Linked DNA regions of Homo sapiens: region 1 is linked to region 2. The links come from fine-mapping of genetic effects on gene expression. Tissue or cell type: putamen. Region 2 holds a variant in brackets; the other region holds the start of a gene. All regions are shown on one strand. Distances are between the middles of the regions. Region 1 holds the start of TBC1D2 (TBC1 domain family member 2). Region 2 overlaps CORO2A (coronin 2A).

Region 1 (15,786 bases), 72 kb after region 2:
AAAAAAGGGCCTGACCCAGGAGGTCACTGCCTCCCTAGAGGGCCCTGGACGAGTGCCTGGCTGCCCCTTAGCTTTGGGAGGGCAGGTTATGAGTCTGCAGCCTAGGGTTTGAATTTCAGCACTGATGTTTTCTTACTACATGACCTAGGACAGGTCTCTTGACCTCTTTGAGCCTTAGTTTCCTGGTCTATAAAATGGAAATAGCACTAACTACTCTATAAAATTATTGTGAGGATTAAATAAGATGACGCATGTAAAGTGTTGGGGCAGCAGGCATATTTCATGACAGTACACATTTATACAGGTCCTTTGTAAACTGTAGCTTACTGTGGCAACTTGCTATTCTTATTATTATAAGTCTCGTGGGTTCCCTTTGATCTTTCTTGGCTCTGCGGAGACCGTTGTTTAGGTAAAGCATAAAATAAAGTTGTAAATCCTTAAAAGCAGGAGAGAACATGCCTTGCAGATTGCTCAAGAGCAGTGACGAGACACTTTTTACCAGAAGTCTCTGACTCAAAGTCAGACATGGGTCAGGAGGTTTTCAACGACATGGGAGCGGGCCGCTGCTTCCTCAGGAAGGGTGGAGGCGGGCGAGGTGGGGCAGCCTGCTCCACGTGGCTAATCCAGGCCTTGCTGACTTGCCCAAGACACCAGAAACATCTTTCTAGGTGGGCTGGGAAGGTTTTGCCAGGCCCTGGGTCTGGGAGGAGAGTGCAGGCTTGCTGCAAGGCGAGGAAAGGTTTCAAGAGGAGAAGCTCACGTCCCTGCTTCCTGAGTCTCAGGCAGCATCCTCCTCAGGAGACTAGAACCCAGGTCATCACAGCAACTCCACCCCTTTCTCCAATGCCCACAGCAGGGGCTGGCCTGGAAGAGGCCCGCCGTGTGTGCTGAAGCAAAGCCGCACAATTAAAGAACCTGCAACAGGTTCCCCACAGCAGAAGAGGTCTGAGGATCCCAGAGCCGTTCTTCCACAATCTGCTTCTTCAAATTTCAGTTAAGACACAGGAATTCTATTATTGCAGAGGTTTCTGCTGGCCTCTAGTCTGATGCTGATCTTTGCAGCAGCATCAACCCAGGCTGCAGTTTTCTGCAAAACCAGGGTTGTCTGGCTCCCTGGCAGATGGGGAGTGGGGGCTGGAGCAGAAGCAAAGAAACCCTTCAAAAGAAACTCCAAAGAAATTACTAATGATTATTAAGAATAAAAGGAACAGTTATTATACTAGTAACAGCACCTATATATGTTTGTGTATATACTATTATGATAGTAATAGCATGGGTGTGTTCTATGCACAGACATATAGACATAGAATAACAATATTATTAGGACAACTCCCATGTATTGAGCACTTACTATGTGCCTGAGGTTATGCTAAGGGGTTTACATTCCTTTCCTCATTTAATTATAAAGTTTAGTGTATTGACTTACACATTCATTCCACAAATATCCAATGTGCCAGGCAGGACACCAGGGAGGTGACACAGGCAACCAAAAAAAAGTCCCCACCCTTAAGGGCTAGCGGGTGGAGATGGACAAGGACGGGGGTAATTATTAATAGAACACAATGGAACAGGTCTCCCTTGAAGTGTTTGAAAAAAGTGTTGAGGGCCCAGAGAGAATCCAGCTGACAAAGTCTGAGAAGGCTTCCAGGAGGAGGCTGGCAAGAAGAGAAGGCAATGCTGGAGCTTGGCCATAGAGAATAAGCAAGAATTTGCCAGGCAAAGGAGAGAGAGCAGAGACTCTGCCGAAGCATCAAGCCCAAGGTGGGGACTGGGGGAGCAGGCAGAGGTGAGATCAGGAGGGATGAGCCCTGAGTGCAGGAGTGAGGTGGTGGGTGGCATTGGATGGCAGTGACCGGGTTCAGGGTCAGGTTTAAGAAAGCTCACTCAGGCTGCAGAGAAGGGGATGGGTTCTGGCATGGCCTCCACATGGGGATACTGGAGAGGAGGCCACTGTGACTTTGAGAGATGAGGTGTGACCTGGGCAGTGGCAGCGAGAAAGGCCTGGGTCTGATGTATGGGTCAGAGGGCAAAAATGGCCAGCACAGTGATTGACTGGACTCACTGGCTGGAATTGAGGAAGGGTGGAGGGCAACTACTAGTGGGTACAAGAGGGGAAATCTACTGAGAGGAGGGAAGGGAAATGGGGAGAAGGGTTGGGGCAGATGTACTCAGCTTTGGACATGCAAAGCACCCAGGTACAGAGGTCCAGGGGGTACTTGGTAACAAGTCCTGCCCTTGCCTATTTGGCCTCCCTGTCAACTGAACATGAAGCACTTTAGACACAGTGTGGCTTTGTACTGGGACCTGATTTTCCACATTCTTGCAGGGGCAGCTGTGAGGTGGTCCATACCGATCCTAAAACCTGCCAATCATGTTCCTGGCTGCAGCATGGGGGTGGGAGGGTGTGGTCTCCTGGACTCTTCCACGTTGGGATGATCCAGGATTTGGGATCAAGAAACTTCATTTGTGAGTCATCTGGGGGAAAAGGATCCTATCTTATGGGAACACCAGCGATAAAAATAATTGATCTGGCCAGGCATGGTGGCTCATGCCTGTAATCCCAGCACTTTGGGAGGCTGAGGCGGGTAGATCACGAGGTCAGGAGTTCAAGATCAGCCTGGCCAAGATGGTGAAACCCCATCTCTACTAAAAATACAAAAATTAGCCGGGCGTGGTGGCACGTGCCTGTAATCCCAGCTGAGGCTGCCTCGGGAGGCTGAGGCAGAGAATTGCTTAAACCCGGGAGGCGGAAGTTGCAGTGAGCCGAGATTGCACCATTGCACTCCAGCCTGGGCAACAGAGTGAGACTCCATCTCAAAAAAAAAAAAAGTCACTGATCTACCCAACTCACGACACAAATCTACAACACTGCATTTTCTTATTAACCCTCCTCACAGCAATTCTGTGAAAGTTTGATTTCTTGAGGCCTTCCATAATAGTCATCACAATAGTAGCTCACAAGTATTGGGTTCTGACCATGTGCAGGCATTGTTCTAACCATTTTAGGTATATGAATTCATTTAATCCTCAAAACATCCCTAAGAAGTAGGGATAATTTATAAACCTCATCTTATGGGGAAGGAAACAAGCTCAGAAAGGTTAAACAACTTGCCTAAAGTTATATAGGACTAGGATTTGAACCCAGGCAGCCTGGCCTCAGCCCAAATTCTTGCCCTAACTAATCCTGAGTCATATCCCTGGCTCTCTGCTTCCTTAGCAGAGGGCTCCTCCCGCTCATTCCCAGCAGGAGGGTAAAGGCTTAATCACCAGAGCCCTGGGTGTGCAGGCAGGAGGGTAGCCCATTGGGTACCTAGCTCGAGGTGCAGGACGGGCCCATTCCCAGCCAGGGCGGCATCAGGGGTGGCAGGAGGTGCCGGCGGGCTGTTGTGGAATTCCCAGCGCTTCATCTGCAGCTGCTGCAGCCAGTACAGCATCGCTTGCTTGGTGGCGGCCTGAGAAGCACAAGGATTAGTTGGCAAGGCCCTGTGCCTGAAGGGTGGCACTGGGTGCAGGAAGAGGGGAAGGTTGTGGGAGGCTTAGGAATGCTTTCTTTCCCAGGAAAAAAAAAAGGGGGTCACTGTAGGTATGTATGCTTCCTGGCCACAGAAGATCATCAGGCTCTGGTCTCCCACTCAGCGGTTCCTTAGCTGCTCTGGGCCTCAGTTTCCTCATCTGTACTCTGGTGACAATAAGTCTCATTGCATAGGACAATGATGAGGATGAAATGAGACAAGGGTATCACACAGTATCTGACACACAGTAGGTGCTCAAAATGTGCTCACTGGATAGAGGAATTTGGAGGCGCTGTGAGAGGGGGAGGTGCACTGAATTCTGATATGCGTGGGGTCCTGGTACCATCACTATCTCTGTGTGACATCTCCAAGTCTTTGCTGCCTTTTGTGGAATAGGAGTAATCCTTGCCTTGGGGATGCACTGGAATCATGGATATGAATGGAGACTGGAAAGCCACATGCACATGTGACAACATGGTGGCACCTTCCAGGTGCTCTGGCCCTCCAAACAAGTTCATGGTAAATGCTGGTCATTAGTCTCCCAGCACTGGCTGGCGGTTGGTCCAAACATCCACTTTCACATCCAATAACTCCTGGATTCTTCAGGAGGGAGGCAAGGCAGGAGTGAGCACCCCTTTCTACAGATGGAGAAACTAAACCTCTGAAGTTGCCCAGGCATGTGGTGGTAGAACTAGTCCCATAACCCTGGTCTAGAAGTTGGATTTTATGGCCAGGAGATTAGTGGCTTCATAAAGAAGGCCTGAGATCAGCTGAGGTGGACTGCAGAAGATGAACAGCTCACCGGGCGTGGATGGGGATTCTCAGAGAGCTGCCTGCAATCAAGGCCACATGAGAACAACAGCGGGCTACATGGCAACAGAGGCAAACTCCCTATCTCAGGGGTTCACTGGTGTGCACTATGCAGGGGGGAGTCTGTGAAAGTGACCCTCAGGCTGTCACACAGGTATCAATAAGATAAATGATGCCCACCAGTGTTCTCTTTCCATACACTCTCTCAGAGAGACTGCAGCACCTCCCAGGTCTTCCCCATGACCTTAATGCTGATGAGCTCCAGCCGAACCCAAATACCCCATTTTATTAACTCATTTGACAAGGGTATACTGAGCATTGACATATGTGTCAGAGATAGTGCTAGGCACTGAATACAGGGGTGAGCCAACACACATGGTCCCTGTCCCCTTGGAACTTGAGAGTCTCCTGCAGGGGACATGTACCTGGATGTTCCATGGGCTCCTCATCCTGAGTTCCCTCCTGTCAGTGACTGACCCAACCAGGCAGTCAGCCAGTTACTCCAGCCACTCCTGACATCTCCCTCATTCTATTTCCCTACTATCCCGAGACACCTCCATTGTCCCCTTCCCCACAGCCACAGCTCTAGTTCAGCTGTCACTCTCTTCTGATCACCTTCTGATGGGCTCCCTGAGTACCAGCCTTGCCCTTCCCCTAGTTTCTTCTCTATCCAATAGTCAGACTGAGCTTTTGCTACTTGGCCTAATTTGCCAATTCCCCACCCTCGGGCCTCTGCTCTTCAACTCCATCCTTTGGGCCCCTCTGTTTTTCTGGCTCATGTGATTTGCCTGGACACTCAGGGCTGTATCATGGTTTCCTAATTTGCTCACGGTGCTCTCTTGGCCTGGAATACCTTTCTCCCTCTTGTCTGCTTGCCACCTATTTCTTCTTTCAAGCCTTGGGTGTGTCCCTCCTCCAGATGCCTTTCTGGCTAGCCCCTTCCACTTGGTGGAACTGACTCCTCCTGTCACCACACCTTCTTGCACAGACTTATCACATGTCTCTACAGAACATTTCAGGGTGCATGCAGGTTCTCCCTCAGTCTCTCCCACCAGACTTTAAGCTGTCAGAGAACCAGGGGTGGGGGTGCATTAGCTCCACACCCCGCCAAGCGCAGAGCCAGGAACAATGGAATACTATTATAAAGACCATGTGTTGAAGACCCTGCATACAGCAGTCAACCTGTGGAAGAGACACATAGACCCGGGAACCACATGACCTCGAAAATGCCTTCCCTGGCCAGGGATTCCTGAGTTTCATTATTTTAACCAAGTCCCCCAGCCTGGTCACCCGCCAAGTCCAGTCAGTAAAGGAGAACTGAACACGTGGGCATCCACAGATACCCACTTAGCTGGAGTTGGGGTTGGAGGGGTGGACAGATGGGGATGGGGTGGGGAAGGCTATCTCCTGGCACATTCTTCTCTGATGCCCATAGAACACTTAGCCCAGATCTGTCTTTCCAATTAAGTTATGGGACACCTCCTCTTGACATTAGCACTCTGACCTTGGTTCCATCACCTTGTGTGTGCATGTGTGCTTATGCAACAAAAAATTATTAAGTACTCCACTAGGTACCAGGCTGTATTCTAGGTGATGCAATTAATTCAACAATTTGTACATGCCTGTGATGTGTCAAATGCTTACAAACCACCTAGGTTCTGAGAGGTTAAGTAACTTGTCCAGGGTCACACAGCTAGTAAGTAGCAAATGTACAATTTGAATCCAAGCCCGTCTGATTTCAAAGAATGTGGCCTTTCTACTGCTTTAGGCTTTCTCAGTTACACATGATGATAAAACCTACCCCTTGCTGCTGATAGGAAAACAGGTTTAAGCATGCCTAGATGAACAATCTAGGCTGATCAGTGAAACCTAAGTGTTTATTTTCCTAATCCCTGCCAGTCTCTTCTCAGCATTCACTGACCTTGGCCAAAATATCAAGAAACGGGAATCAGAATCCTGGCCTTGAGAGAGGATTGCAAAGACCATATTTTGACTTACTTAGGTCCCAGGTAAGAAAGTTAAGGTAACTGCACTGTCAGGCACACCCAAAAGTAAAAGTTTTGATTCAGCACTGAGAGGTAGAAAGACTATGGGATTCCAAGCTACCCTACTCTCTAGACGCATGGACCTCGAGCCAGTCCTTTCATCTCCCTCTGACTCAGTTTCTTGATCCGTAAAATGGGTCTGTCTTCCCTGCCTTGTGGGAACCCAATGAGGAAATGGGTGGGAATGCACTTTGCAAAGCACAAAGTTCTTGGAACTGTCGTCACCGACACTCCAAATTTACTGTGTCCACCTCACACTCGCGCCCAGCCTTGCCCTGCGAAAAGGGGACCTCACGCCGCTGGAAAGGAGAAAGTCGTTGCAGGAATTTACCTTCAGGGTAATAACCCGGCTGGGAGTCTTGATTTCGAAGATCCCCTCCTCAGCGTCCGCCTTACAGTCAAACACTGCACTGGAGAGGTCGATGCTGTCCAAGGGATTGGCATCCTGAGCGGTCCGCGAGTAATACAGCTGACATTTCCTTTCGTCGTAGAAGAACCAGCGGGATTTCCAGCCCCGGATGGGCCCTTTGCCGCCGAACTTACTTAAATACCCACAGAGTTTCTTGGGGACCGCCTCCAGGGACCGGGCGCAGTCCCCCGATTCTTCCTCCGGAGGCGGCACCTGTGGATCCCTGGCAGACTCTTCGGACCCAGGGGCAGAGGAGCTGGACTCCGGGGCGTTCTCCCCAGCGCCCTCCATCGCTGCCAGCCGGAGACTGCGGAGGGACGAGGGGTCCGCGGGACCACCAGGGACAAATCTCGGAGACTCGGCGGGCAGCTTCCCAAAGGGAGACACCTGGGCGGGGGCGGGGCCGACGGCGAACCCGCCCCCAGGAAGCCACAGAGTCGGGACCGGGTGCGGTGCGCGCGCCTCAAAGATCGCAAACCCAGGTTACGGCGGCTGGCCACGCCCCTCCACCGCCAGGCCACGCCCCCGCAGCGCTCAGTCGGCTCCCTGCAAAGCCCAGCTGCTTCCGGCTTTTTCTCCGCGCCAGTCAGCCATCTTTACTGAGGGCAGCCGTGCTCCCTGGCTTCAGGTTAAAGGCGTGGTGGCACTGAGTTAGGTTAACCGCGGGCAGAGAAGCCTGTCCCTAGCTACACTTCCCTGGTAGTTCGCATAGTCACCTAGAAAGATAGTGCTTTCTTGCACCCGATGGGCTGCTTGTTCCCTCCCTGTGCCGCGCGGGGCACCCTCGGACGGCGCATCTCGCGGCCATTGGCTGAAAGGAAGACCGCTGGGAGGCCCATCTTCCGGCGTCGCCCGGGCAGCGCGGCTCCGGAGCTGTCTGCCACTCTTCTCCTGGTGTTCCTTCAGCCCCGTCAGTGACGCCGCGGACGGCCTTCTTATCCCTCGCCTGACAGCAGTGGCCTCCCCAGCTCTCTGTCCTGGCTCCTATTCGCCTCCTGACAGCGCTGGTTGTGTTGCTTGGGGCGCCCAGGCGCGGCCGCTGCGCTGCGGAAACCCATGCCACTCCTGGGTCATAGTTGGGTGCAGTACATTTATTTTTATTTTGTTATTGCTATTATTATTTTTAGAGACGGTCTGGCTCTGTCACCCAGGCTGGAGTGCAGTGGCGCGATCAGAGCTCACTGCAGTCTCCGCCTCCCGGTCTCAAGCCATCCTCCCGCCTCAGTCTCCCGAGTAGCTGAGACCGCAACTGCGCACCACCACACCCGGCTAATTTTTAAATTGTTTTTTGCAGAGAGGGGGGTCTTGAACTCCTGGCCTCAAGCGATTCTCCTGCCTCGGCCTCCTAAAGTGCTGGAATTACAGGCGAGAGCCACCGCGCCAGGCTGTTTTGTAAATAAGTAAAAGAATTTAGGGTTTGACTAACTTGCTCAACTTCTGCCTCATTTTACCTGTTTCCCCTTAAACTTCTCCCCTTCCCTCCTAAGGCGCATTTCTCCATTAGGGTTGCGGAGCCCAATTGCGTCCAGCTTTCTTTAGGAGCTTCTTTCTGCCTTTCTCTTGCCCTTTGTTCAGCCTTTCCTCTTACTTCATCGTCTCCCCCTCAGCCGTCGTTAACGAGACCCTCATGCACACTCAGTGATATTGACAAGAAGCAGGGTGGGGGTAAAGGCGAGGGCTCTAGAGTCTATTTGCATAATTTTCAGATTCCCACTCTGCAATACTGAGTGATTTGCTCAACCTAAAAATGGAGATAACACTTCTTCCTACCCACCCCCGACCCGCCGCCAGACAACTTTACGGTGAAGCTAATGAAATTTATGTTCACTTGCATGGGTCGCTGGGATTTGTAGTCTAACAGGTGGGGAGTTGCAACCAGGGAGCATTTCTCCTAAATGCCAGAGAGCTCTTCATTTGTTATAATTTACAATTTATTTTCTCATTCTAAATAACCATCGTCATACCTAATTTTGTGTTCATAATTTTGTAATTTTTTAAAAATCAGAAGGCCCTTAATGCTGTTTAATTCCAGTCCCCACAAAACCTGGATCTACACCTGTCTACCCTTAGAGTTGTTTTGATAATTAAATAAAATAATATGTGTGAAGCTCTTAGTACAGAATGTGGGACAAAATATTTCTTTTCTTTTCGAGACAGAGTTTCGCTCTTGTTGCGCAGGCTGGAGTGCAATGGCGCGATCTCGGCTCACCGTGACCTCCGCCTCCCGGATTCAAGCGATTCTCCTGCCACCGCACCCAGCCAGTTTCTTTTCTTTTCTTTTTTTTTAATTTTTTTTTTTTTTTTTTTTTTTGATACAGAGTCTCGCTCTGTCGCCCAAGCTGGAGTGCAGTGGCATGCTCTCCAATTCCCATTCTCCTGCCTCAGCCTCCCGAGTAGCTGGGATTACATACACGCGTCACCATACCCAGCTAATTTTTGTATTTTTAGTTGAGACGGGGTTTCACCATGTTGGCTAGGATGGTCTGGATCTCCTGACCTTGTGATCCACCGGCCTTGGCCTCCCAAAGTGCTGGGATTACAGGCATGAGCCACAGTGCCTGGCCCCATTCCTGATTTTTAAAACCTCTTAATAAAACAAACAGCATACCTTATTTGTTCTAGGTTTTGTAGCTAGGCAATGATAAATATTTGAAAGAATAATTATAAATATATTACGTATACCAGAAAAACTCAAGTGGTGGCCTGTTTTAAAAAACTGTGCATATGTGTATAGATGTCTCCAGCAGCAAACAAATGGAAAATATAATGGACAACATCCCTTACATAAATGACTTACATAATGAATACCTTATTGCTTTATAGTAGGATATAAGACAAACCAAATATGTCCCTGAGTGGGAAGAGTTAATATTGTAAAGATGTCACATTCCTCAAATTAATCCATACAGTTAATACATTTTCAATCAAACTCTCGATAGGCTTTTTTTTTTTTTTTTTTTTTGAGACAGAGTCTTGCTCTGTCACCCAGGCTGGAGTGCACTGGAGCGGTATCGGCTCACTGCAACCTCTGCCTCCTGGGTTTAAGCTATTCTCCTGCCTCAGCCTCCCTAGTAGCTGGGACCACAGGCAGGGCACCATGCTCAGCTAATTTTTGTATTTTCAGTAGCGATGGGGTTTCACCATGTTGGCCAGGCTGGTCTTGAATTCCTGACCTCAAGTGATCCATCCACTTCAGCCTCCCAAAGTGCTAGGATCACAGGTGTGAGCCACCATGCCTGGCCTCGATAGGCTTTAAAAAAACTTTTTATTTTTGAATAGTTTTAGAAAAAGTTACAGAGACAATGGGAGAATTTCTGTAGACCCTACACCCAGTTTCCCCTAATGTTAACATTTTGCTTAATCCTGGTATGTTTGGCAAAAATAAACATCTAACATTGGTACAAAACTATTGACAAGGCCGGGTGCGGTTGCTCACGCCTGTAATCCCAGCACTTTGGGAGGCCGAGGTGGGTGGATCACGAGGTCAGGAAATCGAGACCATCCTGGCTAACATGGTGAAACCCCGTCTCTACTAAATATACAAAAAATTAGCCGGGCGTAGTGGTGGGCGCCTATATTCCCAGCTACTCGGGAGGCTGAGGCAGGAGAATGGCGTGAACCCAGGGACGGAGCTTGCAGTAAGCCAAGATCGTGCCACTGCACTCCAGCCTGGGCAACAGAGCGAGACTCCCTCTCAAAAAAAAAAAAAAAAACTATTGACAAAACTACAGTCTTTATTTGGATTTTGTCTGTTTTGTACCAATAGCCTTTTTCTATTCCAAGATCCCATTCAAGATGCCATAGTTAGTCATCATTTTCCCTTAGTCTCCTCTGCATTGTGACGTATTTCTGTTTTTCCTTGTTTTTCATGGTCCTGACAGTTTGAAGAATACTAGTCAGGTGTTTTGTAGAATACAATCACTTTGGGTTTGTCTCATGATTTCACTGAGGTTATGTTTTGGGGAAGACTACCACAGAGGTGAGGTGCCCGTCTCATCACAACATCAGAGTACATGATATCTGCATGGTTCCTATACTGTTAAGTTGTGTAGCTTAAATTTTCTCATTTTATTTTATTTATTTTTTTGAGACAGAGTCTTGCTTTCTTGCCCAGGCTGGAGTACAGTGACACAATCTCGGCTCACTGTAGCCTCCGCCTCCCGGGTTCAAGCGGTTCTCCTGCCTCAGCTTCCCAAGTAGCTGGGGTTACAGGTGCTCGCCACCACACCCGGCTAATTTTTTGTATTTTTAGTAGAGACAGCGTTTCACCATGTTGGCCAGGTTGGTCTCGAACTCCTGACCTCAGGTGATCCACCCACCTCGGCCTCCCGAAGTGTTGGGATTACAGGCATCAGCCACCATGCCCGGCCTAAATTTTCTCATTTTAAAAGGATGTTAAGGCCGGGAGTGGTGGTTTTAATAACAAGAAAAGTTAATCACTTGGATAAGGTAGGGTCTGCCAGATTTCTCTGCTATAAAGCTGCTCCTTTTCATTTCAACACACTGTTCTTTGGAATTGGGTTGCTAAATTCAGTCCCCCCTTATAAGTAGCTCCACCTCCTGGAGGGGTTGATAGGAATTTTTGCAGCCTATTAAAATGATTCTTACATACTCTTTTTTTCCTTCCTGTCTTTCCCCCTTCCCTTTCTTTTCCATTTTTTTTTTTTTTTTTTTTTGAGACAGGGTCTTGCTCTGTTGCCCAGGTAGGCTGAAGTGCAGTGGTGCAATCATCACAGCTCACTGCAACCTTGACCTTCTGAACTCAAGCAGTCCTCCTACCTCAGCCTCCCGAGTAGCCAGGACTACAGGCACATGCCACCTCATCTGGCTAATTAAAAAAAAAAATTTTTTTTTTTTTGGTAGAGATGGCAGTCTCACTATGTTGCCCGGGCTGGTCTCAAACTCCTGGGCTTACATGATCCTCCTGCTTCGACCTCCCAAAGTGTTGGGATTACAGGCCTGAGCCACTGTGCCCAGCTTTAAGTTTTACTTTTTCAGAAGTAAACAAGTGAGAGTTGCCAACATTTTGGAGAGAAAGGACAACTAGAAAGGATTTAACCTACCAGACATTTACATTTAGTAATTTGGCCAACAAGTATTGAGTAAGCACTTTCCATCAGTCACCATTTAAAATGTTAGGGATAAGTCATGAGTGGGACAAGGTCACGGCTCACATTGAGCTTTCATTTTAGTCAAAGGAGGTGGGTAATAGGCAGGTAAAGAAGTAAATGAACATAGTAACCTCCAGAGTCTCCTACGTGCTAGAAAGAAAGTGAATAGTATTACAGGAGCAACAGAATTCGGTGTTTTTGGCACATGGACAGGCACATCAATAGAGCCAAGTACAAAGTTCTGAAAAACAAAAATATACGTATTCAGTTAAGTTTATATATTAATCTTATAGCATCTGTCTTAGTCTATTCAGCCTGCTATAACAAAACACATTAGGCTGGGTATTCTGTAAGCAACAGAAACCTCTGCTCACAGTTCTGGAGGCTGGGAAGTGTAAGGTCCAGGTGCCAGCAGATTCAGTGTCTGGTGAGGACTGCTCTCTGCTTCAAAGATGGCGCCTACTTGCTGCCTCCTCACGCAGTGGAACGGGCAAACAGACTCCCTCAAGCCTCGTTTACTAAGGCACTAATCTCATTCATCAGCACTCCACTCTCAAGGCCTAATCACCTGCTACAGACTCTACCTCTTAATACTATCACATTGGGTTTTAGGTTCCAACATATGAATTTTGAGTGGGACGCCAACATTTACACCATAGCACTATTTATCAAAATAGAGTTTAGGTAAATTAGATAATTACATATATAAAGTGAAACTGTAGGATATATGCAATGGGATATTACTCAGTCTTATAAATAATGAGATTCTGACACATGCTACAACATGGATGCAGTACCTAGGAGGCAAACTCATAGAAACAGAAAGTATAATAGAGGTTACCAGAGGCTGGGGGAGGGAGGAATGGGGAATTACTGTTTAATGGGTACAAAGTTTATTTTATTTTATTTATTTAATTTTTTTGAGACAGGGTCTCACTCTGTCACCAGTCTGGAGTGCAGTGGCATGATCATGGTTCACCACAGCCTTGACCTCCCAGGCTCAGGTGATCCTCCCACTTCAGCTTCCTGAGTAGCTAGGACTACAGGCACCTGCCACCACGCCTGGCTAAATTTTGTATTTTTAGTAGAGATAGGGTTTTGCCATGTTGCCCATGCTGGTCTCGAACTCCTGGGCTCAAGTGATCCTCCGACCTCACCCTCCCAAAGTGCTGGGATTACAGATGTGAGCCACTGTGCCCAGCCAGTTTCTTTTCTTTTCTTTCTTTCTTTTTTTTTTGGATACAGAGTCTCACTCTGTCACCCAGGCTGGAGTGCAGTGGCATGATGTCGGCTCACTGCAACCTCTGCCTCCCAGGTTCAAGCAATTCTCTTGCCTCACCCTCCCAAGTAACTTGGATTACAGGCACCTGCCACCACACCTGGCTAATTGTATTTTTAGTAGAGACAGGGTTTTACTATGTTAACCAGGCTGGCCTCAAACTCCAGACCTCAAGTGATCCACATACCTTGGCCTCCCAAAGTGCTGGGATTACAGGTGTGAGCCACCATCCCTCGTCCAGAGTTTCTTTTTATTTTTTCTTTTTTTAAATTTATTGAGGTGGGATTGATATACAGAAATTTGTACATATTTAAGTATGTAATGAATTTGGAGATAAGTATATAATTGTGAAACCATCACCACAATTAATGCCATTAACATATACATCACCTCCAAAAGTTTCCTGTTACTATTAATTATTATCGCTATTTCATGATGATACTTAATATGAGATCTACTCTCAGCACATTTTTAAGTATACGCCATGGTATTGTGAACTCTAGACACCATGCTGTGCAGTGGATCTCTAGGACTTGTTCATCCCACATAACTGAAACTATATCCTTTGACCAACACCTCCCCATGTTCTCCCTCCCCGCAGCCCCCAGCAACCACCATTCTACTCTGCTCCTCTGAGTCCAACTATTTTAGATTCCTCACATAACTGGTATCACACAACATTTGCCCTTCTGTGTCTGGCTCATTTCACTTAGCATAATGTCCTCTAGGTTCATCCATGTTGTCCCAAATAGGCAGGATTTCCTTCTTTTTTAAGGAAAAAAATGTACTTATAAGTATACATCTGTTCCTGTATTTAAGTTGTTTTAAAGTTGAATATAATTCCTTACCTCAAGAATGGGGATCAGAAATCATTTCTCCCAGCTCCACTTCCATAAAATGCAAGCAAGAAGTCACACACAAATAGCAGATTAACTGGGAAGCTTTCTTAGAGAAAGAAAGACACATGTTAAACTCTCTGATGCTGTAGATATAAGGACACAGACTAGAACTCTATCATTCTCACAGGAAAAAGTTGGAAGGGATAATGCAGGCTTCTCAATGTTTCCACCCTGTTACAGGGGGAATCGTGTCCCTCTAAATTCATTTGTTAAAGCCTGAGGCCGGGCATGGTGGCTCACGCCTGTAATCCCAGTACTTTAAGAGGCGGAGGTGGGCGGATCACTTGAGTTTAGGAGTTTGAGACCAGCCTGGCCAATATGGTGAAACCGCATCTCAACTAAAAACACAAAAATTAGCTGGGTGGCACACTCCTGTAATCCCAGCTACTTGGGTGGCTGAAGCAGGAGAATTGCCTGAACCCGGGAGGCGGAGGCTACCGTGAGCCAAGATCATGCCACTGCACTCCAGCCTGGGCGACAGAGCAAGATTCTGTCCATAAATTATTTATTTATGATTAGAGTCCTTATAAGAAGAGATTAGGACACAGACACACAGAAGAAAGCCCATGTGAAGACACATCTACAAAGCAAGGAGGGGGGCTTCAGAAGAAATCAACTCTGCTGACATCTTGATCTTGGACTTCTAGCCTCCCAAAGTGTGAGAGAATACATTTCTGTTGTTTGAGCCACCCAATCTGTTCCTTGTTATGGCAACCCTAGCAAACTAATACACACCCTAAACAATGGAGTGAGCTTCCTTAGGAAACTCATTCCAGACATAGCCCAAAGTGGCTTAGAGCACCCACGAAATTTATCTGAAGCCTTGCTCTATACACATAAATAAATATGGGTTCATATCAGACAATTTAGTATAAAATATTTTAAATCAATTTCCAAAAAGCAAAATAGTCAAAGCCTGCCCCCAACCACCTCCCTATGAGGACTGGGGAGAGGGCCAGAGTGCATAAACCTCAGCTGGGGTGTTGGGTGTCAAGAAACGTGGCCACTGGAATTTTCATTTGCCAATTGCAATTTTTAGGGGCCTTGGCTTTCTCATCTGTAAAATAGGGATTATAATACTCCTCAGGGCATCCTGCCAGATGTCTGTGAAGACTGAACGTAATGATGGAAAAATTTTAGTTCGGTATCCCACATCTGCACCAACACCAACATACTCAGGGTTGCTCCAGGGAAAAAAGAAAATGAAGAAGAAAAAAGATCTACGTTTTAAGTTTAGGGATATTATAAGGGAATCTCTGTTGATCTAGGTGCATCAATTGTTGTATATCCTAACAGATGCACTTCTGGTTATTACATCAAAATATGGTCAACACCCCTCCTCACCCTCTTTGCCTTCTGCTGTGGTAGGATTAGCTGCAAGCAACAGGCTGTCAGAAAGCGACATCTTGCGGCCTTTGTGGGACCTGCCCTCCGGGACACAGTACTTGGTGTTCTCAAACTCTTGTCAAGGGCTTAAAAAAGGCACAAAGCACTACTCCCTGTCTACCCAAAACAGTCAGGTTACTAATTTGACACCCTTAAATTCAGTATATTTTAAATGTTTGTCTAACCCATTCATTTAGTGAAGGCATGAGAAACTGATTTTCTATCAGCAAAATCATGTATTTGTGTTCAGTATAAGTTTATTACATGCACTAATAAAGCATTATACTTCAAACTATTTCGAGTTGTCTTCCATGTCAAAATGTTTTCTTCTCTTA
Region 2 (15,293 bases):
ATGTGCTCCAAGCTCTCCCCATCTTCCAGGTTATACTCGAACTCTGCAGATGGGGGCTGAGAACTCCTCAGCAGAGCAGGTCCCCAAAAGGATCCCAGATGTCACATCTCAGAACAAAAGCACTAGCCAGACCCCAAGAGATCGTGGGGTACAGAAAGAGGAAATGGAGTCAGCACGCCAAAGGCCACCCACACAGGGCAGAACCAGGAACAAGATCCAGGTCTCCAGCCTCCCAGTCCAAAAGAGTACGCTAAAACACAGAACAGAGTCCTGTCTTCCTGTACCTGGATACAGTACCAAACATTTTTGTTCCTTATCTGTGTTGCTCTAAGTAATAGTGGAAACTCGTTTGTGGAGGGACAAATTCCAAAGATGGTTAGGAAAGAAAGGCCTTATAATTGTGAGCTCAAGGGTCATTGGCCTTATCTAGGCTCTCCTGGACTCACACCTTTGAAAGGTGAACTGTGTTTCTCCAGAGAGTGCTTTAGGCTGGGAATGATGGCAGACCTTAGGTCTTTTCTGCTAGAAAGGCCGGCAGAGCATCAGCAGCCCCCACGATGTGAGGGGAAACCTGGAGCACATTCACTCCACCCACATTTTCCAAGTCCCCAGCTGGAGATAGCCCCTGTGCTGGGCTCTGTGGATGGAGGTATTCCCATGGGGTCTCTCCCCTTGGGAATGGGTAGAAAAATAGGGAAATCCCTACTGGAGCAACGCTTGATCACAAACGTGGTGGCGTGTTAGAGGTAGCAGGAGCAAGGAAAAGACCAGGAGGTTAGAGCAATGGGCTCCAAACTTTGTTTTTTTTTTTTTTTTTTTTTTTGAGACAGAGTCTGGCTCTGCTGGAGACCCAGGCTGGAGTGCAGTGGCACAATCTTGGCTCACCACAACCTCTGTGTCCCAGATTCAAGCGATTCTCCTGCTTCAGTCTCCAGAGAAACTGGGATTACAGGCATGTGCCACCACACCCGGCAAATTTTTTTGTATTTTTAATAGTGATGGGGTTTCACCATGTTGGCCTGGCTGGTCTCGAACTCCTGACCTCAGGTGATCTCCAAACTTTTTTGATCATTCACTCCTTCCACAAGAAAAAAAAAAAACAAACTGTGCTCACACCCCATTATCTTATATTATATACAAGTAATCATCATCAACCTCGCAAGACAAAACGTATACACAGAGTGAGATTCATCACTAACCAGAGTGACTGTAAATATCTATTTCAAAGTGTCCCCTAACATAAACAAACAAACAAACTTGAGCTGACAAACTTGTCAGACTTATTAGCTTGTCACTGTTTTTGTCCTGGGTCTTGTAGCTGATGAAGTGACTGCAATAGAAACCCCAGTGTTAATTCTCTCACTTTTTTTCTTTTTTAAATTTATTTTTATTAAAAACATTTTTTTAGAGACAGAGTCTCGCTCTGTCGCCTAGGCTGGAGTGCAGTGGTGCCATCATAGCTCATTGTAGCCTCCAACTCCTGGACTCAAGCAATCCTCCTGCCTCAGCCTCCTGAGTAGCTGGGACCACAGGCATGAGCCACCATGCCCGGCTAATTATTAAACTTTTCCTTGAGGCGGGGATTTGCTATGTTGCCCAGGCTTGTATCAAACTCCTAGCCTCAAGTGATCCTCTCGCCTTGGCCTCCCAAAGTACTGGGATTACAGGCCAGCACTCAACCTCTTCCATTCCCTTGTCTTCATGTACTAGCATTATTAGCATAGTAAGTAAGCACTGCTAACAAGTCACAATTTTTCAGTACGAATCTTTAAAAACCACGTGTCCATTCTGTAAGCGCTAGTTAGCTTAGAGTGGTGAATATAATTTGTAAATCCAATCTGGATTAATTAGTCTGGATTAACCTGGATTAATAAACCAGGTTAATTAATTGGGATAACTTGCCAAAAACAGACTAAAGAGTAAGGGAGTCCTCATTACCCTTTCTCAGAGTGTTTCCCCTTCTCTCTGGAGACTCCTGGACCACATGAGACAGGAGACTCCTGGACCACATGAGGCTGCCTGACACCCCAGCTGGCGAGTGTGTCTCCACCTGGCAAATGTGACTAAAGCTGAATTCTTTGTTCTATTTGTTTAGATATTTTTTCCTGCACCCCAATGTGCATCTTGCATAGATCACTTTGGAGGCAATTGGGATAGAAGATGAAGAGAGTCGGAGATAATTTTTAAGCTCAAAGGATGGCAGAAATGATCTAGTCTACCCTTCACTTTGCAGGTGAGGAAACAAGAACCTGAGAAGGGATGTGACTTGTCCAGGGTCACCTGGCTGGTCAGTGGCAGATCCTGGAGAGAATGCAAATCTCTAGGCCTTGATGCTACAAATGGCTGCTAAAAGTGGTCACAGTCTAGCTCTTTACCGGTCCTTTTACTTTACTGGTCCTTTTACTTTACTGTGCCTCTTGGTTGGGTTCACTCTGAAGCCTCAGTTTCCTCATCTGTAAAATGGAACGAATCAAACCAGCTCTTGGGCTGCTGTTTGAGTGCCGGTAAAGTCTCGCTGACATCTGCGGACTGGGAAGAAACCCTTCCCTAGGCTCTGGAAGGTCCTACTTGAGTGTCTGAGATCTGGGACCGCTAGAGCATGAGGATTCTGCCTCTGCCTACCAGCCACAGCAGTGACCCTGCAGGACGCGGAGACCCTGCTGCCCAGCATTGTGCTGGCCTGGGCCTGGCGTGTTGGTGGGCAGCTGTGGACATGGGTCCTGGGTCTCATGAAGCAATGACCTGCAATCCTGCTCCTATCTCTCATCCTCCCCATCTTCCAGGTCCTTCCTGCCTCCTCCAGGCTGTCCTCATCTCAGATCCCACCTCTCTAAAGCTGAGACCCCACTTGGGCTACTGGTAGATGGCAGCATCCTCTATTCCAAAACCTTCAATAGCTTCTCAGCTGGGGATTCAAAGCCAAGGTGTGGCCCAGGAGTATATCAAGAAGGGATGTGAGGCAAGCAGGGAAGGGGAAGTGGCAGGGATGAGGGCAGGAGGGAGGTGAGCAGTCGGCCGGGCGCAGACACTCAGGAAGTGCATTTTCAACAGAGAAATTAAAAATAGGCCAGGCGCGGTGGCTCTTGCCTGTAATCCCAGCACTTTGGGAGGTCGAGGCAGGTAGATCACAAGGTCAGGAGTTTGAGACCAGCCTGATCAACATGGTGAAACCCCGTCTCTACTAAAAATACAAAAATTAGCCAGGTGCGGTGGCAGGTGCCTGTAATCCCAGCTACTCAAGAGGCTGAGGCAGGAGAATTTCTTGAACCTGGGAGGCGGAGGTTGCAGTGAGCCGAGATCACGCCACTGCACTCCAGCCTGGATGACAGAGTGAGACTCCATCTCAAACAAAACAAAACAAAACAAAACAGCAAGCAAAAAAAACTGCCTCAAAGTCTGACATTTTACGATCATAATGTGCCTGCAATTCTAAACAACGTCAGTGCGTCAGTGCTAAAACGCTCCTCCCTGACAGGGCAGGCTGCACCTACCTCCCTGCCCTTGGCGTCTGGCAAATACCTTATACTCTGCCTCTTATACTGAGCCAAACCAGACCCTACGTTCATCGCATCCCATATAGGCCTAGTAAGTTTTCTCCTCTCCAGTCCTTGGGTTACATCATTTCCTTTGCCAGTAATGCCCTATCCACCACTCTGTATGACCGGCTGCTACAAGGCTCAGCTTAGAGAAGTGCTCCCTCTTCCAGGAAGTCTTCCTGCAAGCATTCCCATCCATCCCCTCGCAGGCCATGGCTCCCCTCACATCACGTTTTCATCTCCAAAGGAAAACTCAAGAAAGGAACCCGCAACACAGAAAACCATACAAGGAGAGTCACTTCTGAGCTACGTGACCTCAGACAAGTCCCATGGCCTCTCTGAGCCTCAGTTTCATCTCCTTAAAAGAACCATCTCATCTCCAAATACCCTCCTTTCCTTGACCTGCACCATCCCTTCTTTTGACTGCACAGTGAACTCTGTCATTAGGTGAAAATGCTCCACCTGCTTCCAAAGTCACTAATTCAAGCACCCCTCCTGACCGCACCCTCCCCACCTCCAGCCTCCTGTCACCTGCCACATGTGACCAGCCCTTTGCCAGTGTCCCCAATGATGGATCAGTAAAAACAGGTTCAGGCTCGAGTAGAGGGCCCTGGAAGCCACAACCAGAGACCCCTCTCCAGGATGACACAATGCATCAAGCAATGCCCCAACTCCACCACCATGCTCAGCAACACCTTTGCTGAAAGACCAGCTCCAGGGATGGTGTGGGGGCCATGTGATTTCCATGGGCATGTTGTGGAAGGCCATTTCTTGTCCCCAGTAACCTGGGACATCAGCTCACTCTTATCAACACCCTAAAATCCCTCACGCCACTGACTTTTTTTTCACATCATCTGGCAAACCCCAGCACTGGGTGAACCTGGATATCTAAGCTCAGTTGGGAGGAAAATGGTGGACAATAACCAGCCCTGGGAAGGAGGCCCCAGTGGGGTGAAGGCTGCTCCCATGTTGCTTGTGTCCCCCAGCGCGACTCCCTCTGCAAGTCAGGCCATGAGAAGGGCACTGCCGGAAAAGCCAGAACCCACGGGCACCCACGTGGCCTCCTTCTTCTTGTACCCAATGCCAATCCATCACTAATCCCAGCCTCCTGTCCCACCTTCAAATCATCTCTCTCTCTTGCTTTTTTTTTTTTTTTTTTTTTTTAAGAGATGAGGTCTCACTATGTTGTCCAGGCTGGTCTGGAACTCCTGGCTTCAAGCAATCCTCATGTCTCAGTCTCCCAAAGTGCTAGGATTATAGGCGTGAGCCTCGGTGCCTGGCTCCAAACATCTGTTAAACTTGGTCATTTAGTCTCAGCCACCAACCATCTTGCCCTTGATCTTTCCGAAATATGTAAACGTGAGCAGACCCCTCGGCGGCCATTGTTCTACTTCCCCAGCCTCACCTTGCCCAGGGATCTGAGCTGCACACATCACGGTGCTTTCAGTTCTTCAAAGTCCTGTTTCCTCCAGCCGGAGGGCTTTGGCAAGGCTGTTTCTCCTATGCAGCGTGCCTCCCTCCCCACCCTTGCCTGCTCAGTCCCTACTCATCTTTCAGATCTCAGCTCAAAGTCCTTTCCTTAGAACATCCCATCCATCCCCTCGCAGGCCATGGCTCCCCTCACATCATGTTTTCATCTCCAAAGGAAAACTCAAGAAAGGAACCCGCAACAAAGAAAACCATACAAGGAGAGTCACTTCCAAGCTGTGTGACCTCAGACAAGTCCTATGGCCTCTCTGAGACTCAGTTTCACCTCCTTAAAAGAGCCATCTCATCTCCAAATACCTTCCTTTCCTTGACCGGCACCATCTGTGCCCTGGACTGCAGCCTTTTGCAGTGACCCCGGACTCAGCACATTCTCTACTCTGCACGCCCTTCACTCCTCTCTCCTCCTCCAGATTCTGTGGGACTCTACGATTACTGTCCATCTCTCGTTTGGTCTGTGAGCCCTCAAAGGCGGGCCTGTGTCTGTTTTGCTGTGCTTGGTATCTCTAATGCTTTACATACAGAAAGTAATCAATCGTGAACAAAGGTCCTAGTCAAAAAATTACATTGAAAGATAACTTTTTAGGGAGCGAATGAATGGGTCAGTCTGGGTGAGGCTCCAGGATTATCTGTGTGGGGCAGATATCTCTACAGTCTTTCTCCAGGGCAGGCCACACAGGCCGAGCCACTCCTGCAATGGTTTCAACAAGGATGAGGCTAGTGACCCTGCCAGCAAGCTCTCAAAGCTCCTTCCTGTTCATTATCTCCCCAGCCCTCCTCCACACTCCCCACCCCCATTACTCAGAGTACCAGGCTTTTAATGACCAGGCCACTGGAGCATTTCTGAGCTGGCATTGTGGAGATTCTGTTCTTCCCAAGGGCCAGGACTCAGGAGCCTTTTCTTTGTGGGGTTGGATGAGGAAAAAGAAGTGGAATCTAATTAGACCAGGTTCAAAGCCCAGCTTTGCCTCTTGCTGGCTGCGTGACCTTGCAAATTTACTCAACCTCTCTGGGCTCCTGCCTCCTTATCTGTAAAAAGAGGACAAGACTATCTAGCTACAATGCGATGGTGAAGATTCCATGAGTGAATGCACACTAAGAGTCTAATTGGGGACCCGCCACATGTCAAATGATTCCAAGACAGCTTTTTACATTTTAACATCTCTGAAACTGGGATGCAACTTACAGTTTCTGTTGCTTTTTCTTTCTTAATGGATTCTAAAATAAGGGTACATCTCACAACAGATAAGCCCTGCCTTGAATGAAATACCGCAGTAGCTTAGATTCTTTACTTCCCTTGCAAAGAGGCTGAAACGCCTGTGAGATGGGATCAAAGACCAAGAACACAAATCGTTAAGGGACAAGGGTCTATTGAGGCCTAGCATTCACCCTGGATCTCCAGAGCTTCACGGAATTTGAAGGCTCAGGCCCTTCCCCGGCCTGGCGCCCCTCTGGATCTGTCTCAGCTGTCCTAGTCTTGCTCAGAAAGCGGCCCAAACTTCAGCAGGACCCTCACCTCTGCCTCCAACCCTCTGTTGCTACTGATGTGGTAGGTTCCACAGTTGGACAGTTTGGTCACAATGCTACTGTGCTTGCAGCCACCCAAAACCCCAAGTCTTTGTCCCAAGAAAAGAGTCCTAGTTCCCACCTTCAGAAACCCCCACAGACATCTCCTCCAGTGTGACTCCATCAAGCCATCCTTGGACTCTGCTCCCAACTGTTCCGAAGGCCAGCACTGGGGATGTCATCCAGGCCTTACCAAAGTCCTTATGCTGTGAGTGCTGACTTCATCCCTGCAGCCTGCTGATGTCAGACCGGCCTGAGTATTTTATTATCTAAATATCATTATAACTTGTATTGCATACATAGTTGGCCCTCTGTATCTGTGGGTCCTGCATCTGTAGATTCAACCAACCTCAGATGGAAAATATTCGAAAAAATTAAGGAAAAATAACAATACAACAATTAAAAAATACAAATTTAAAAATACAGTACAATGGGCCAGGCATGGTGGCTTGCACCTGTAATCCCAGTATTTTGGGAGGCTGAGGCGGGCAGATTACTTGAGATCAAGAGTTCGAGACCAGCCTGGCCAACATAGCGAAACCCCATCTCTACTAAAAATGTAAAAAATTAGCTGGGTGTGGTAGTGCATGCCTGTGATCCCAGCTACTTGGGAGGCTGAGGCACAAGAATCACTTGAACCCGGGAGGCGGAGTTTGCAGTGAGCTGAGATTGTGCCACTACACTCCAGCCTGGGTGACACAGCAAGACTCTGTCTTAAAAATATGTATATACAGTATAATAACTAGTTACATAGCATTTACATTGTGTTAGGCATTGTAAGTGATCTATAGATGACTTAAAGTATACAGGAGGGTGTGTGTAGGTTACATGTAAACACTATACTATTTTATATCAGGGATTTGAATATCCACAGATTTTGATATCCTTGGGTGTCCTGGAAGCTGAATATTTAGGAATGACTGCACACATATCACCAAAATCTTTACAGAAATAAATTATCTATCAAGTATAAAATTATTTTATTTTATTTTTTTTTTTAATAGAGGCAATGTCTTACTTTGTTGCCCAGGCTGGTCTCAAACTCCTGGCTTCCCAAAGTGCTGGGATTACCAGGAGGAGCCACCATGCCCAGCCAAAACATTTTAAATGTAGAAAAGACCAAAGAAAACAAAATTCTACCACCTAGTGATAATTAGCTTGATGTCTGTCTGAATATTTTGCTATGTCTGCATGCTAGGGAAAGATTCTTTTCTCATATCCAAACCCAAACAGTCTCATTCCACACATACTACTCTTTCTCTTACCGTGACATGGTGGCCCTCTCTCTAAACAGACTGGTTTCTTCATGGCGGCCCCACAGTGCTCCCGTCCTCTATCCCTATCCCTGGCAGGTCCCAGGCCTCTACAGGGACGTAGTGCTTTGGGTCTGACGTTGTTCCTCCTCATCCTCAGAGTGGGGCTGTGATCTGTGATGGGGCCATGGCTGCCTTCGGGGACCCCACCAAACAAAGCCACACCCAGGCACAGAAATACTCCAGAGCACTTAAATCAAGGGGTGTGTGGTTAATGGCGGCTGTCTGTCTCTGTCCGATTTGATTGTAGCCCTTTCAAAACCAACTGAAAGTTCTCCCAGCCCCAGATGCTGGCCTGATATTTCCCTAACCCCTAGGGGCTCCAGAAATCACAATGAATAATGAATAGGTAGGTGCCTGGCATTTTGTAGTTCATAAAGCGCCTCCTTACTTTTATCCAATTTAGAGCCTTACAACAAGCTTATACATTAGGCAGAACAGGTATTTATTATCCTCATTTTATAAATGAAGAAACTGACGCTTAGAGAAGTGGAGTGACTGACCCAATATCTTCCCTTATTTTTCTACCCTTCATAGTCTGGCCGTCTCCAAATCACACTAACAACCCAGCTCAGGCATCAGCTCCTCTAGGGAGCCTTCCATGACCCCCCACTTCCACCCCAGGCTGGGTTAGGTGCCCTCCTGGAGGCCCCACAGCTCCTGGGCTTCCCTATGATAACTGTAGTGCCCCTGCCAGGCCATGGGCCCTCACGGCTGTGATGGGTCTAGCTTGTCTGCATTCACACTCCCCAAGCATTAGAAAAACATCAATAGGTGGTTGCTGGGGTGAAGATCATTACAATGACTAAGGCAGGAATTATTCTTCCCCTTTTACAGATGAGGACACTGAGTCATAAAGAAGGGTCAAGACTTGCCTAAGGAGCATATCAGCAGCGGGGTCAGCTCTCCTTCTTCAGAGGCCTGGGTTCTTTTGCTCCACTGCATCCCTTGTTGTCCGCAATCTTAGACTCCAAACCATTGCTGGAGGCTCGTATCTGATTTCTCAGGCAGGTCTACCTGGTCAGCCAGGTGTGAAAGGGAGGTTGGCAGGAGGGGGCTCTGTCTGCAGTGGGCTCAATTCCCCAGCCTGGGCCAACACCGTGGTGCAGCCTTAGGAACAGCCACAGGAGTTGCCCAGTTATTGAGCACGCCATAGACCACGCCCTGTGCAAGAACTTCCCTTGCACTTCTTACTTCATCCTGTGGCTGGGGCCGTTATGATGCCATTTTGCAGGTGGGCCAGGAGAGACCCTGGCCCAAGGCCACTCAGTGTCTGAGATGGGGCTAGAAGCCAGGGCTGCATCCCTGGCAGCAGGCAGCCCCAGGAGTTTGCTGGCACCAGAGCCAGAAATAAATGCACAGTCAGAGTACAGGAGACAACTCTCAGGGGACCTGCAGTGTGGGCAAAGCCCCAAACTCACCTCCCACCCAGGGCTGGCTAGAGGGACAAGACTCTTGGGCCCAGGGAACACACGCCTGCCCCTGCACTGCCTGTGGGCAGGGTCATGCCATTTGCCAGGGCCCCTACAAACTCCAGGCTCAAGGCCAGGCTAGAAGCAGCTGTCATATCAACCCTGCACAAATGCTCAGCTCCCGATTTCTTATTTGAATGAGACTTCACCTATCTGCTCCTGACTGGCTGACAGATGCTGAGCAAGGCCCCATCTCTTATTGGGCCTTACTTTACCTATCTGTGAAATGATGCCAGGAGAGGGGTGGCTGGCGGGGGGAGGGGCTAGGTTTGGGGGATGGTATCTTAATGGAACCCACCAACTCTGACATTCCAGGGATGGACTACAGGCAGCAGGGGAAGGTGATTAAGCCCTGGACACTGGTGGCAGATGACATAGATTGAATGTATGATCCTGGGCTAGCTACCCAACTTCCCTGGGGCTCAGTGTTGTCATCTATAAAATGGGAATGATAGTACAAAAAAGACTGAAAGTAAATGTTCATATTGATTATGTGGGATGAGAAGAGGAGAAGATATGGGTAATTTATTTTGTCTGTTTTCCTGCCTTTTTCTGAAATTCTCCATTATCAAGTGTTTATAATTTTAAAAATGTATTTTCTTTGTAAATTAACTTCATGAGATATCATTTACATATAATATATCCATTTTAAAACGGGAGAAATAATAACAAACAGTATGTACCCTATAGGTTGTTATGGGGATTGGGTTAACGTATATAAAATATTAGATGGTGGTAAGAAGTGCTAATAAGTGTTTGTTAAATATATAAGCCCAGGGTCAGCCTGGCTTCCTCCTCATCCTCCTCCTGCTCACCTGGCCTGGACCCCAACCTCTCCCCTAGCACTGAGCTCACTGCCCAGGTCCCACAGCAGCACTCCAGGCCTGGACTATTTCTACAGCCATCTCTCTGCACCTGTCTTCGTCCGTTGCTGCAGCTACAACAAAATATCATAAATTGGGTGCTTTGGCCAGGCGCGGTGGCTCACGCCTGTAATCCCAGCACTTTGGGAGGCTGAGGGGGGCAGATCATGAGGTCAGGAGATTGAGGCCATCCTGGCTAACACTGTGAAACCCCGTCTCTACTGAAAACACAAAAACAAAATTAGCCGGGCGTGGTGGTGGGCGCCTGTAGTCCCAGCTACTGGGGAGGCTGAGGCAGGGGAATAGCATGAACCCGGGAGGTGGAGCTTGCAGTGAGCCGAGATCGTGCTGCTGCACTCCACCCTGGGCGACAGAGCAAGACTCCATCTCAAAAAAAAAAAAAAAAAAAAAAAAAAATTAGCCAGGCATGATGGCGGATACCTATAATCCCAGCTACTCAGGAGGCTGAGATGGGAGAATCACTTGAACCCGGGAGACGGTGGCTGCAGTGAGCCAAGATCACACCACTGCACTCCAGCCTAGGCGGCTGGGCGAAACTCCATCTCAAAAAAAAAAAAAAAAAATGTAGGTGCTTTATCAACAATAGAAATGTATTTCTCACAGTTCAGGAGGATGGAAGTCCAAGACTAAGACAGCAGATTTGGAGTCTGGTGAGGGCCCACTTCCTGGGTCATAGAATGGCGCCTTCTTACTGTGTCCTCATGTGGTGGAGGAGGTGAGGGTCTCTCTGGGGCCTCTTTTATAAGAACACTAATCCCATTATGAGGGCTCTGCCTTCCTGACCTAATTCCCTCTCAAAAGCCCCACCTCTTAATACCATCACCTTATGGGGTAAGATTTCAACATATGAGCTTTGGAGGAACATAAATATTCAGACCATAGCAATCTCGCAGGAATCACACCAATATTCAAATCTGGCCATGTTCCTACCCAATTCAAAAGCCTTCCATGGCTCCCCGCTGACCCTGGCTGAAAGTCCTAGATTCTCCATGAGACACAGTTTCAATAAGCCATGTAACTTTTCTGTATTTTTGTTTTCTTAATTGGAAAAGCGGGATAAAAAGAGTAGCTCCGTCATACACTCGCAGGATTCCATTATGAGCATGGTGGGGTACACAGTCTAGCCCAGGGCCTGCCTGCTCCTCTCTTCCTCTTCTCCCGCCATCACTCTGTCCCAGCTCGTGCTTCTCTGAACATGCCAGGCATGGTCCTGCCTCAGGGCTTTTGCCCCAGCTGTTCCCTCCACCTGAATGGCTGTTTCCCCAGAAATGAGCCTGACTCACCCCTCTCCTTCAAGCCTTTGCCTAAAAATCACCTTCTCAATGAGGCCCCCAGCCCACCCTAGTTAAAACTGCCCCCTCACACACCCTAACCCCTCCTATGTTCTATTTGCTCCACCTCATTTATCACTGATTTTATTTATCACCTATTCATCTATTTTATTTATTGTTTTTCATCTGTCTTCCCCCCATCTGATTGTAAGCTCTTTGGGGGAAGATCTTTCTGGTCTATTTTGTTTAATATCAGCGCCTTCCCCCTTTCCCCAGCACTTAGAAAATACCTAGTACAGGTCAGGTGTG[T/G]TGGCTCACATCTGTAATCCCAGCACTTTGGGAGGCCGAGACAAGCGGATCATTTGAGGTCAGGAGTTCGAGTCCAGCCTGGCCAACATGGCGAAACACCGTCTCTACTGAAAATACAAAAACTAGCTGGTGTGGTGGCACGCACCTGTAATCCCAGCTACTCAGGAGGCTGAGGCATGAGAATCACTTGAACCCAGGAGGCAGAGGCGGAGGTTGCCGTGAGCCGGGATCATGCCACTGCACTTCAGCCTGGGAGACAGAGCGAGACTCTGTCTCAGAAAACAACAACAACAACAAAAAACAACAACAAAAACAAAACAAAAGAAACAAACAAAAAAACTAGTACAATGTAGGTGCTTAATAAATACTGGCTGAATGACTAATGGAATGAATGAACATAAAGCACTTAGGACAGAATTAGGCAGGCGGTAAACCCTCAATGAATGTTAGCTATTATTATTACTGTTAGTGATTCTTCAAAGTGAGGCTCCCATGTCCCTCCTCCTTGACTTCTGCAAGCTCATAATCACACCTTCCTTGTCCCCACCACACCCTGCCAATCTCTCAATTATAGTAAGGAGCACACCGCTCTTTAAATACCTGTATATCTTTTTCCATTTAGGCTGAACCAAATGAAATTGCCATTTCTTGTAAGTCAAAAAAAGTCACATACTGGCCGTTTCATGTGGTTTAACCTAGTAAGTTTCCCATAGCAGCCTGCAGACCCCCAGGAGGCACAGTTTGACCACAGAAGCAAAGTCACCTACTCCTGGCCCTTTAGACCAGGTGTGATTGCAAAGCACGTCCAATCTGTTCTGAAGGAGGCAAGGCATGGATTATAGACTTAAAACACAAGAAGATTCTGCTGAATTATTTTCTGGACCTCCTGAGATTTGGCAGAGAAGATAAAAACACACCAACTTCTAAAACGATCCAGCTTCTGGCCATTTTGAAATAGCAAAGGTTTAAGGCTGAAACCCCTCGGTGGGGAGCTAGCTACCTGCCTCTAAGGGGATTCATTTAATGAATCTCCTTCCAATCTCGGCTTTGCTACTGAGATTTGTTCACTCTAAGAGGTTGGCTGTCAGAGCTCAAACAAATTCAGCAACTGCTGAGTCTACCCCCATTTCACAGATGGAGAAAGTGAGGTCCAGAGAGGGGAACGGATCGGCCCAAGGTCACACAGTAGGGAAGAGGAAGACTTCAATCTGGAATCTATGTCTGCTGACTTTAGTCTCATGGTCTTTCTTCTGGATTAAACTGTTTCTATGCTGGCCAGACTCCGGTAATGTAAGCTTCAGTGCCACTATTTTTTAAGCTGTATTTGTCAAATGAAATGTTTATTAAGCCTCAGATAAAACTGAACACTTCTTCACTAGACGGCAACTCCTTTATTTTTTTTTTTTTTTGAGATGGAGTCTCGCTCTGTCGCCCAGGCTGGAGTGCAGTGGCACAATCTCGGCTCACTGCCACCTCTGCCTCCCGGGTTCAAGTGATTCTCCTGCCTCAGCCTCCCGAGTAGCTGGGATTACAGGCATGTGCCACCACACCCAGCTAATTTTTATATTTTTAGTACAGACAGGATTTCATCATGTTGCCCAGGCTGGTCTCAAACTCTAGACCTCAGGTGATCCGCCCACCTTGGCCTCCTAAAGTGCTAGGATTACAGGCATGAGCCACTGTGCCTGGCCAGAAGACAACTTCTTACAAATAACAGCACTACATATGTCTCTCTCCCTAGTTACTTCCTTAGGATAAAGTCCCCAAAGTAGCCGGCTAAGGGCAAAGGGCAAATATGATCATTTTCATGATAACAGGCTGCCAGGTTGCTCTGCAAAATTAAATGCCACAGGCGAATCCCTATAGCCTTGCCAGCACAGAGTTTCATCTTTTTATTTTTATTTTTGCTAATTTTACAGGAATAAATACAGACTGCTTTCATTTATTATATGTTATGTGTTTTTTTGGAGAAAAAAAGGCACTCCAATCTTGGAATCAGGATCCCTGGGCTCGGTTGCTGGTTTGCTGTGTGACCTTTGCCCAGTCACATCCCCTCTGGCGACAGGGGATGCCTATCTGTAAAATGAGGGGGTTGAATGAGACGACGTCTGAAGGCTCCTTTCAGCTCAGACATTCCATGATTCCATGGTGCATTTAAAAAGTATTAGCAATTAAAGTCATAGCATGACTTTTTAATAACCAGAATCTGCCATGCTCCTAAATCAGGCCAAAAAGGCTTGAATTAGGCAAGCAGGAAAACAGGGCCCAGATTATACATGTGTCGAGATGACAGGAGACCCAGGTAGCACTTAAGCCTGTGCGTCGGAGCTGGGCTCATGGGCCAGCACATATACTTTGCCTGCTTTTACGAGGGGATAATAACACTCATTTGTGGTCCAGCTCCCAGTCCTGTGCAGCTCCACCATGGCCGCAGGGCAAGGTCATAGGCACTACTTCAGCCCTAGAATTCCATAGACTTTCAGTCCAAGGTAGCTCACCCCCAGGTTCTGCTTGAATACCTGTGATGACAAAGAGCTCACTACCTGTCCAGGGGCCTCCTGCCCTCTTTTGGCTGTTAAGAAAATCCCTGGGTGCAGGGCAGGTCATGAAGGGGACAAGAAAGACCAGGAGGCTGAGAAGTGATTCCTAGAAACTGCTCCCTCAAACAGGGCAGGCATCAGGGAGGTGGAGAAGAGGCCCCATGGGGCAGGAAAGGCCTGCAGAGGGGCTCCGGCTCTCCTCACTCCGGACCTCTCAGACGGTCCCCAGGAGGGGCAGGAAGCTGGGGAGACACATTCCAGTCCTGATGCACAGGTGGGTTCTGAACAAGCCCCAGGAAAGCGGAGGCCCCACAGCCTGCTCCAGGGCAGACACCTCGGCTCCCTCTTCTTGCCTTGGCTCCCTGGGATCTGATGGGAGAAACTGCTGGGCCTGGGGCTGCTGGGTCTGGAGATGAGCATATTTAAGGGACCTGACCACTGCCCCAGGGTGAGGGAGGAAGGGTCAGAGGTTGTTTGTGTGTCCAGAGCAGGACCAGCAGGAGAGGCAGTGACTGGGTAGCAGATTCCAGCTTGGTTTACAACTAGTGAGATTCCTATCACAAGGAGTGTGCAAGGGGGCAGCAAGACCTTCCAGAGGGGATCTTACAGAGGGGCTGGGCCAGATGCCATAGGTCTTCTTTACCTAGGGAGCCTGGGACCACAGTCCCTCAGACCTGTGCTCTGCCCCATCCCTTAATGCCACGCGGACACAGCACCTTGGCACTGTCACCCCTCTGAGGTCCAGGCGTGGCCGCCAGTCACCCCTTGTCACACCAGCTAGTGTGTGTCACACCTTATCACACACTAGCTCTGGGACACAGAGCTAGGCACCAGCACCTGGCCCGGGTGGGGAAGGGGAAGGAGCTATCCTATACCACTCTCTAAATCGAGGTGCCTACGTGGGGCTGGTCCAGGCA

The links. PIP is the estimated chance that this variant, and not a neighbour inherited with it, causes the effect.
Region 1: it holds the start of TBC1D2, and the variant in region 2 is fine-mapped to the expression of TBC1D2 in putamen (GTEx, PIP 0.96).

Annotation. Positions count from the first base shown.
Region 1 is chr9:98,248,475-98,264,260 of GRCh38, forward strand. It overlaps TBC1D2 (TBC1 domain family member 2), which reads right to left and starts at 7,175. Exons shown (of 13, transcript NM_001267571.2): 1 at 6,699-7,175; 2 at 3,311-3,452. The coding sequence starts at 7,067. RefSeq lists enhancers at 1-272, 273-1,189, 7,410-7,899, 15,531-15,580 and a silencer at 7,190-7,239.
Region 2 is chr9:98,176,658-98,191,950 of GRCh38, forward strand. All of the region lies in intron 1 of CORO2A (coronin 2A), which reads right to left. Among named protein-coding and RNA genes, the nearest start is that of CORO2A, 8.3 kb to the right of the region's middle. RefSeq lists an enhancer at 14,833-15,293. The variant T/G (reference allele first, on the strand shown) is at 11,837.